Linked DNA regions of Homo sapiens: region 2 is linked to region 1. Evidence: fine-mapped QTL for protein levels in blood plasma. A gene starts in region 1. The other region holds a variant in brackets. All regions are shown on one strand. Distances are between the middles of the regions. Region 1 holds the start of CCL7 (C-C motif chemokine ligand 7). Region 2 holds the start of CCL8 (C-C motif chemokine ligand 8).

Region 1 (5,380 bases):
CTAGGCACATTGCTGGTGTAACTAGCCTAATCTTTGAATCCCATTGAACTCAATGCCCAGTTATATACCAGCCTCTCTGTTCCTGTTCTTTCTAATTCTCTGTGCCCAAGAGTACAAGGCCTGCATGAAAACACATGATTTTATAATTTTTTGAAAATGAAGTTTCAGCAGATTCTGTTTGACCTTGAGCACATGTAGCCCTTCTCTCCTTTCCTGTCCTACCATCAAACACTCTGCTTAATATTTGCATGTATCAAATACTGTGTCTCACAGTATCTATTCATTCACCTCTACTCCTGGTCTGCCTGCTGGTTGTTCTCTCCTGGAATTTAAGATTACCCTCCTTATTGGTGTGAAATTAAATTAAATAAGTCAAACTTCAAATAATTTAAACTTAAAGCTATTAGGACTTTAATTATTCTGAGCCTTGAGAGGAATGTGGCTATGCAATCTGAGTTGTGTGGCATGCACCTACAACTTCTGCATTTTTGCTGTTTCCTGTAAACAATTAAGAAGACTGAGCCATGGCAGAGGTAAGACCCCTCAGATCATTACCTCTCCTTAAGGAATAGCAAATAATCTTCCTTAGAACATAGCAACCTATAACCAATCAAATCACTGTGGTGTATGCACCTTGTCTAGTATGAAAAATGTTGTAATCTGGCTGGAACTTCTGTCTTTACTTATGTAACTGAAACTTTTCCGGTTGTTTGGAGTTGATGCTTTTCCAAGTGGCCACCCTCAAGCTTTGTCCTTGAATGAACTGAATACTTATTCACATTTTCTGAATCTCATTGTTTAAGGTTGACTTTGGTGTTTGGGGGTGAGAACTGGTGGGCTGAAGAAGGGGTAGAAAGGGATGTTGGACTTGGTCTGAACACCAATGGTGGCAGAAATCAATGATGGCAGGCACTTGCCAAATCATCTGTTGGTCTCCTACTTGATTTTTTAATGAAAGTGACATTTGTATTTACTAGACTAGAGGATTGATTAGAAGGGGGAAAACCAGCCAGTCACAAGGCTGATAGAATAGAAGAGGGGACAGGCTTTTGGGTAGAGCGTGGGATGGTGAGAAAAAGAATGAGTTTGGGAAAAAAGAAAGGTATTTGAACAAGTGGCTGAAGCAGATGTCAGATCTGGAGCTGGGGGGTGGGTTCATCTGGCCCCAGCCTGTGGCTGCCTCTCCCTAACATGCAGGTGAGCCTGGCCTGGGGGAAAGCCCAGAGTCCATTACGCGCTCATTTCTCCACAATGTGAGCCCAACCTCTGCAACCACGCCCTTCACCTTGTCACCCTGTTACCCCCACCAGCTTTATTACTTTATCCTTTTAAAAAACCATGAATGGCAGCTGTTATACAAAAATCTATTTTATGTGAAAATTTGGGAGTCATACATATGCAAATATGTAATTATATAATAACAATATGCTTCCATAGGGACATCATATCTTAACAATTAAAGCAAATCTTTGCACTGATTCTTGCAAGGACTTATACAATACCCCCATGAGGTAGAGAAGGGAGGAGCATCCCACAGTTTTTACAGCACTGAGATGACATATACATCCAAGGCTTTATGTTCAAAACCCACCAAAATCCATGGAAGATTAAATTAAAATATTAATAACTTTTAAAATCTACTAAGAAAAACCATGATTCACATTATTACATAAAGCTCATATTCCTTAGAATTAGATTAAAATAATCTCAGAACCACTCTGAGAAAGGACAGGGTATACAAATTATTTGTTTCTCAAGTCATGGCTTGTTTTCAGTTCAGTCATGAATGTTCAAAGCTTTGGAGTTTGGGTTTTCTTGTCCAGGTGCTTCATAAAGTCCTGGACCCACTTCTGTGTGGGGTCAGCACAGATCTCCTTGTCCAGTTTGGTCTTGAAGCTGTGGAGCAGAAAGGAGACAGTCAGATGGAACACCTTGAGGGTTCAGCCTGGGAGTGTGACCAAGTCTATGGGAAATCTGTCTAGCCCATCAGCCTAGCTGATGGGGATGCCTCAGGGATGAAGGAAGAAGATAAAACAAAGGAAGGGGACTCAGAGAAGCAGCTCTTTTTGGTAGCCCAAGTGAATCTCTCTTGGTTCCAGGATGAAGGAACGAACTGAGATGTAAAATGATAGCTGGAAAGGGAGCTGAGAGTGAGAAGCCACTTTCTTTACTTGTATTGTTTCTCACTGGCAAATGTCTGGGATAAGGTTAGAGATGCTGTATGCATCACAGTATTTGACTCCAACTCATTCTGATACTAGTCCTATTCCCTGCCCAGGGAAGAACCTAGGACTGAGGTGTGAGGGGTGGGTGGTCATCGTCCACATACATTACAGCTTCCCGGGGACAGTGGCTACTGGTGGTCCTTCTGTAGCTCTCCAGCCTCTGCTTAGGGATTTTCTTATTGATAAATCTGTAGCAGCAGGTAGTTGAAGTATTAATCCCAACTGCAATGAAACAACAAGAAGAAAAGTCCATTGAGGGTGTGTCCTGGGTCTTTCTGTTTGTAAAACAGGGAATGGTAAGAAGAAGGAATCAGAAAGAAAGGAAGAGGTGGAGGGAAAAGCTGCCCATCCCAAACCCAATGTCTCTGCCCTTTGAGGCATTTCATAAACTCCCTTTCACTTTTATGGACTGTGAAATAGGGATGCACCATCACCAGTTGAAAGACGGAAGAGGAATTGATGGCTACTCTGGGCATTGCTAGGAGGGGCTAATATAATAATCCAATTCCTTAGAGCAAGGGTACCCCAACTATGGATCCCCTTTTAGGCTCTGAGCATTCAATGCTTGGTCATGAGTTTCCCTGATACGTACCACCTCTGCAGAGCTGCTGTTTCTGGAAGCTGGGCTTCCACAGACCAGATTCTGGGTCTCCCGGTATCTGGAAACAGCCCGCACACCCATCCCCAGAAGCCTCCTGTCTTTGATCACCCTGATCCCAAATTCTGCTGGAAGCAGCTGGAGTGGTAACTGCACTGAGGGTGTTCCCAGAGCTGGAATCCTAGAAGGAGCTGGATTTGGGGTTCACAGCTGGAATTCTAGTTCAGGCTCTACCCAACAGCAGCTGTGTGGTTGGGCTCACCCCTTATCCTTTTTCTAAGTTACCTTATCTTGGAAAAGTAGCTGTTAAAGTGAGACTGTGGGTATCAGGTCTTCTTGATTGGTCCAGGATAACCCAGAGAGGGGGCAATGTGCTTCAAGGAGAAGGAGAGAGGGACCTTACCTGGCTGAGCAAGCCCCTGGGGGCTGAAAGCAGCTGCTGTGAGCAGCAGACACAGAAGTGCTGCAGAGGCTTTCATGTTGGAGGGTGAGGGCATGGGCTTCCACATGAGAATTGGAGGTTTCTGGTTTGGTCTCAGCCCCTCTGCTCCTCTGGAAGCTCTGTCTCTGCCTTTTATAGGAAGCAGAGAGGATGAATCATAGAATGGAGTAATAAATCTATGGAGTAATAAATCTGCTGAGCCAGTGCACTTCAGTGGGAGGATAGGAAATGACAGTATGAGTCGAGGCTAGCCTGTTTTTCAGCTAAGACCAGGAGTGGTAGGTGAGGTAGGGTCTATGTAGAGGAAGACCACAGTATGTAATCTATGGCTATTATCAAGAGACCAGTTTCTCTGAAATGAGACACATTCTATAGAAAAAGGAAGGAATCAGGGATACCAAAGTCAAAGATATGTAAGGGATATTCCCCTTTTCCCTTTGGAGTGGTATCCCTAGGACACGAGTCCACAAAGAGACATTCAAACTTTGGTTCAACTCTACAAAGGACTCAAAGATTCTTCACTGTCTTAAATCCTGGTGGCTTTCTAAAACCCAGAGAAAAGTAAAATAATAGAACATTAGCAGAAAAATAAAATTCAATATTCTTAGAATAATAGTACCTAAAATTGTAGTGTCTATTTCAATAATCTATTGCTGCATAGCAATCTATCTGAAAACAGTGACTTAAAACAATAACAATCTTCTGGGTTTTTTTGCTCTTGACTATATCACAAGGCCTTCATTCAGTGTCTGGGGTCTGGGCTGGGAGGACTTCAACAGCCAGCAGTTGGACCAGATGGAATTTCTCAGGTGTCTCTCTCTCTCTCTGTATGTGTGTGTGTGTGTGTGTGTGTGTGTGTGTGTGTGTGATCTTTCCAGTGGTCCCTCCACATGGCTAGATATTTTGCATGATGGCTTAAGGATCCCAGGTGCAAGGTTAGGGAACATAGTCATACCTCTTAATGGGAAGAGTGTAAAATAATTTGAGGATATGTTTTAAAACCACTATTTGTTTTATAGGCTATCGGAACTGCACAGCATATCAAGATCTTAAAATACTGTGTTTCTAAAACATCTAATGAGCTGTGAAAATATTTTTCCAAGTAAAAGAATATAGGGAAGGCAAATTTATCGACAAAATCAGAGACCTTCAGTTTGAATCAGAGACAAGAGACTTCTTGTCATTCTTCCCACACACATATCTCAGAAATACAAAGAATAAATTTTGGAAACCACTAATCTAGCTCCTCATCTCACATACAACTAGCTCCTCATCTCACATACACATTACAAAATCACCAACTAATCGCCTTCCATATCAGTGAAAAGGGGTTTGATGAGAGACCATGGGTGGGGTCCTCATGCCTATAACTGGGCCATGGATCATGGACATGGAATGCAAAAAAGGAAAATTATTCAATGGGGGAATTGAGCATTATACAACTTTGAATATTAATTTGGGAGCAATGCAAGGCTTTGATTCTGGTTTTAGCTTTATGTCGTTTTATCTTACCCCTATGACTTTGCTCAGGCTACTCATTCTCTCGATTATCTCTTTTTCAAATTGTTTTTACTCCCAGCTCCAGAAATTGGTGAAGAGTTGGCCTACTTTCTATCTCCTTATTTATGGAGTCTTCCCAGCTCACTCTAATGTAACACATTAGAACAGCATATTTTCTAACCCAGGGTGTACGTTCCATCCACCTGATGCTTCTAAAAAGCAGAATCCTTTCCTTTGACTTTTCTTTCTTTTTCTTTTTTCTTTTATTTTGGAAGACAACTATCATGGATAACCTGCTGAATGATCGATGAAGTTGGAGTAGAACACGGGGGTCCTGCCCAGACAGGTCAGGAGCTCAAGGAAGTACTCATGGGTTCCAGTTGGTTAAACCTTTTTCCTTCAGAAAATCCTTAAGTGAAGTACCCCAAGATGTCCCTGCCTAAGATCCCAGAGAAAATGCCTGCTTATATTTATGATGGAAAGACCTGTACCTGTCACCTACAAGACCTGGGAATGGTAAAAATAAAAGGCTGCTGAATTGTTGCAGAATGTTGTAAAAACTTTTAAATAATTTAAAAACAATATAAGCTGGTTGTAGAAAATATGGCAAAATTA
Region 2 (5,351 bases), 50 kb before region 1:
GAAAAGAAATAACCAAGATCAGAGCAGAACTGGTAAAAGGGATGGCAGAAGCATTTGAACATCTGCCTTCACCCTTCACTGTGGACGGTTACCACCCAAAATGTTCACTCTTCCACACTTCTGAAACTTGGACAAGTGTGCAGTGGAGTCAACTCCTGACCCAAGATGACACCCAGGAGAAGCCTGGGGGCAGCAAGTGAGAAGTGAGAAGAGGCAGAAAGCAGATATTGAGTGAATCAAGTGAGTCATGGACTGCCACAAATGGTCAGCCTTAGCTGAGGGTGAAACTGAGGTGAGCCTGAGGTTGTATGTCAGCTTTGAGTGACCTTTCCAGGTCTTTCCCCCAGTTTACAAGACAGCAAAGCAGGGCTTACAGATCTGAACCAGTTTATGGAAGGATGTGGATTTTTAAAACACATATATTCAAGTCAGGGCACATAAAACATCAACCACTTAAATAAGATGACATGTTACTTAAGGTGTATTATGCTCATTGTCATTTGAAATATAATGACATAATCCCAAAGTGAAGCTGGGTAAAATTTGAGAAGAACAAATTTGTGTCTTTTTGCTGTGGCCTGGTGTCAGTTTTGTGTGAGTGTTCTTGCCTTTAGAATTTGGGATTTGTGGTCCAGGATTTCATGAAGCCCAGGACCCACATATCTGTGCCCAATTGACCTTGAAGCTATTGAAGAAAGAGCTTAGAGTTTGATGGAGCTTTTTTGTGGACCCTGCCTGGGAGGTGCCCCTCTAGTCCATCTGACACTTAGCTGCTTTATTGCTCTTGGAACTGTGGGTGTACTACTTTGAACTTTAATGGAAAGCTTGTCTCCAAATAAGGGGTATCTGACTTAGATGTGTTTTTCCAATAAGCTAGGCCCTGGCTGCCTTTATGGCTTTAATCCCAGGAACTTTATGTCCCCACTCTACCCCAGACAACAAACATGACCTTGTTTCTAAGAGACATGGCTCTAGAGCTGGAGGGACTTGTGTAGTCATCTGCTAGATCCTCTCACTTCCTGCCTGTGACACAGTATGATCCTGATTTTTGGATGGGGCATCTTAATGCTGAAGGGAAAAATTATGTCACCCTAAGTGACCAAGAGAGTTAAGGTTACTCTTAGGAGCAGAACCCAAATCTCTTTCCTCTCTATACTTCCAAATATACTGGAATTGTGGCACCTTTACATGAACATTAACAGTAGGCCCTGCAGAGTTGGTTCAACAGTACAATAAATTTGTTTGCCTTAGACGTGTTTTCCCAATAAGCTGGAAAAATAATAAGCTCTGGTATGTATGGCTCAATATGGCGGGTCACATGTTTGTAAGAAGATTCAGCTAAGCTCACTAAGTACAGGGGAATCTTGACCTTAAAAGGCTGTCAAAAAGAAGAGGTTCCACGCCTTTAAATGGATGCTTGCAAGTTCTTGGGATTGGGGTTGGGGGTAGAGTGATGGAGATTATCTTAGTCTTTTTGGGCAGCTATAACAAAATACCTTAGGCTGGATAATATATAAACAAGAGAAACAAGAGAGGCTAGCGAATCAGGGCTGCTGAAGTTAGGGACTAGAGTCAGAGAGCTGGAACATCCTGGCCTGGTCCCACCAAGTTCTCTGAGAACCTTGGTTGAGTCCAGCGTAGCCAGAAGACATTCTTGAAAAATGGCCCGTCCATGCCCAAACTGTCACCCATGATGCCCAAAACTCACTCCCAGCTAAATGTTACCCCAAGAAGAATAAGACTAAGTAGTTTTAAATTATATATATTTTTTTCTTTTTGAAATTTTTTTTCAAAATTCCATAGTTATATACAGTAACATCAATTTCAACAACAGCAGTACAAAGCACACATTTGACTTACAGGAGCACTGATTGCCAAAGAATACCAAAGTGTTTCACCTTGATGATCCATGGGAGGACCCCACAACACTACAGACAGGTAGGAGGGAGAACAATGACATTTTGCCGTGAACTTAGTTGAGCTCACAGGAAAACAAAAACAAAAAACACATCACCAGGATTTTGCATTTTACATTCACTAGGATGTATGACAGATAGAGTTAAAACATCAACAACTTAAATATAATTAAATACTTTTTAAGAAATATTATGCTTTAAATTATTTAAAAATAATCTCTTTGTGGATGTTATAATAAAATAATGTCACACTGCACCTGGGGGAGGTTGGGGAAAATAAATAAGCTTTTCTTCAAGCTCTGACTCTCAGTCCATGTATGAAGGCTCATGGCTTCAGATTTTGAAATATTTGGTCCAGATGCTTCATGGAATCCCTGACCCATCTCTCCTTGGGGTCAGCACAGACCTCCTTGCCCCGTTTGGTCTTGAAGCTGTGGGGGAGAGAGGGCACAATTAGATGGAAGACTTTGAAGATCCTGCACAGGACTGTGGGCCATTGGTCCCTAGAACTGATCAGCCCTTGGTCCTTAGGTGAAGGACCCGGACCCGGGAGAGGAGGGAGGGGAAGAGTGGGAGGAAGAAGCTCCAGAAGGAAGCTCTGCTCTTGCTGTCCAGGTGAAACCCTCCAGGGTCCTGGCTACAGATATTGGGTTAGTTTCACCAAGCCCCTAGAAGGGAATCCTAGAGCAGTTATGGACTCCTTCTCATGGACTGAGTTTCTCTATGGGGTAGAGGGGCCCTTTGGATAGAAGTTATATGCATCCGACTCATATGGACATGAATCTTGACTTCTCTATGTTGTCCATCAGAACTTTTGAATGGGGGTGCCAGGCACTGTCCACTCACATCACAGCTTCCTTGGGACATTGGATGTTGGTGATTCTTGTGTAGCTC[T/A]CCAGCCTCTGGATAGGAATTTTCCTATTGATCACGTTAAAGCAGCAGGTGATTGGAATGGAAACTGAATCTGAAAGAAATTTTGCAAAGAATGAGACATTTAGGACCCACCGTAAGTGTGCATTTGTAAGGAAAAGAAGAGAAGGAAGGAGAAGACCAAGAAGTCACCATCCCAAGTTCAGTGTCTTAGTCCAGATCCCAGAGATAAAATGTTGCCTGTGAGTCTCTTTCCTCTATTGAACTCTGCGGCCCGTCATTGTTGACTGGGTTTGGAAACATTTTGAGTAACAAGCTAGTCCTTGTCTACTAACCCAAAACTTCTGACACTGGGAACATAAGTTCCAATACCTTGCTTCCCAGTCTTTCATCCTCATGGGCTTTAGAGTTAGCCTATGCCATACGCTGAGATTCCTCTGGGTCCTCATCCTCTTTACACAGCCACTGTTCTGGAAGGTACACTGAACCATAACCAAAATTTGAAGCTTCAGGCAATAGTTTCTCCCTCTCCACTACGGCCTGAAATGTCCTTTACACCCACAGTGAGAAACAGTTCTTCGTTCTGGATTATTTCCCCAAACAATGGGAGGGTTGTTGCTGTAGCGGCTCCACTGTCTCCTCCCAAAACTGGGGTCAGGAAAGATCAAGGGAACCAGCCTCAGTGACCTGAGCCTTTAGTTCTGGTTTTGTTCCTAATGAGCTGTGACATAATGGCTCTTCTTAATTCCTCTTTTGGTCTCCCCTTAAAAAGGGAGAGGTCTTACCTGGCTGAGCAAGTCCCTGAGGGCTGAAAGTGGCTGCCATGAGCAGCAGGCACAGAAGCGCTGCAGAAACCTTCATCTTGGAGGGCAAGGGTGTGAGCTTCAGCATGAGAGGTGAAGGTTTCTGGGTTGTTCTCAACCTCTCTGCTCCTCGGTGGCTCTGCCTGCCTTTTATAGGGAGCAGAGAGCCTGGGCATGGTCACAATCAAGGAAGAATGAAGTAAGACCTTCCTTGAATATGCTGAGTAAGCACCAGATCCTGGGATAATTTCCAGATAACAAAACAAGGAAGTTGTGAGTTTCTATCTTTTGCTTAGGCTCTGTGGAGCAGAGGCTGAAGGGTATGGGATTGTGCTCAGCAAAGTGACCTCACTGAACTATTAAGGGCTCTGATTTCCTTGAAATGGAAAATTGTCTATAAGAAAGGAAGAATGGAAGCTGACGTCATAGTGGAAGAGAGCCAAGGGCCTACCCCTCTGTGGGTAACAGGAGGCCAGGGATGGGCCCTAAGGCTTTGCTGGTGCTCTCCATCACACTAGAGTCACTTGCAGTTCTAAGCCAGGCAAGCTCCTTTAGAACCCCAGCCACAGAACGTTGGCAGAATGACAGAATCCTGGAACTAAGTCTTAATGCCCCAGAATCTTACTGTTGCAGAGGGTAAGAACTAGACAGCACATGCTGGTCTTGTAGCATGGTGGTTTCCAAACATTTTATTTAGATGCTCAAGTTTCTTTCCAAATGAAATTATATGGAGAAGTCCAATATGTCATGGAGATTCAGGTGGAATGGGTCCGTCTGCAGAAGGCCTTCCAACTCTCTTGGTTCACACACAGTGGGGCTGTGGGCGGGGCGTGGCAAGAAGGAACCAGGTTTGCAAAAGACTGACCTCATCTACTCCCCCTGCAGGCCTGATCTATCCATCATTACAATATCATATAGAAGTTTTCCTGCTCTAAGAATTCACTGTATTCTTCTATTCATCCTTTTTCCTCTCCACAAATCTCTGGCTACCACTGATCTTTTTACTATCTCTGTGAGCTTGTCTTTTCCCAAGTATCATATGCATAGTTGGAATCATATAGTAGGCAGCCTTTTCAGACTGGCTTCTTTCACTAAGCAATATGCATTTAAGGTTTCTCCGTGCCTTGTTGTGGTTTGATAGCTAATTACTTCCTTTGTTCTTTATTCATTTATTATTTTTATTGTGGTAAAAATGCACATACCATCTTAACCATTTTTAAGTGCATAGTTTAGTGGCATTAAGAACATTCACACTGTTGTGCAACAGTCTCAATAACTCTTTTCATCTGTAAACAGAAATTCTATACCTATTGATCTCCAGTTTCCCCTCCCCCAAGCCCCTGGCAACCACCATTTCTACTTACTGTTTCTGATTTTGACTGCTCTAACTACCTCATGTGAGTGAAATCATATAGTATTTTTCTTTTGTGACTGGCTTATGTCATTTAGCGTAAGGATCTCAGGGTTCATCTATGTGGCAGCATATGATATGCTACATATCCTTAAGGCTGAGTAATATTCCCTTGTATGTATATAGTACATTTTATGTATCCATTCATCTGTTGAGGGCTCTCTATTCTGTTCCATTGATCCATTTGTCTATTCTTTCACCAATACCACACCGTCTTGATTACTGTTTCCTAATAGTAAATCTTGAAGTTGGGTAATGTTAGTCCTCTGACTATTCTTTTTCAGTACTGTGTTAGCTATTCTAGATCTTTAACCTTTCCATATAAACATTAAAATCAGTCTATCACATCCA

Evidence for each region. PIP is the chance, under the fine-mapping model, that this variant and not a neighbour inherited with it causes the effect. Protein levels are from the aptamer-based SomaScan assay of Sun 2018.
Region 2: its variant is fine-mapped to the plasma level of the CCL7 protein (Sun 2018, PIP 0.95).

What each region holds. Positions count from the first base shown.
Region 1 is chr17:34,268,213-34,273,592 of GRCh38, reverse strand. CCL7 (C-C motif chemokine ligand 7) reads right to left here and starts at 3,372. Exons shown (of 3, transcript NM_006273.4): 1 at 3,227-3,372; 2 at 2,330-2,447; 3 at 1,351-1,896. The coding sequence starts at 3,302. The coding sequence ends at 1,791.
Region 2 is chr17:34,317,798-34,323,148 of GRCh38, reverse strand. It overlaps CCL8 (C-C motif chemokine ligand 8), which reads right to left and starts at 3,714. Exons shown (of 3, transcript NM_005623.3): 1 at 3,572-3,714; 2 at 2,763-2,880; 3 at 1,747-2,347. The coding sequence starts at 3,647. The coding sequence ends at 2,242. The variant T/A (reference allele first, on the strand shown) is at 2,811.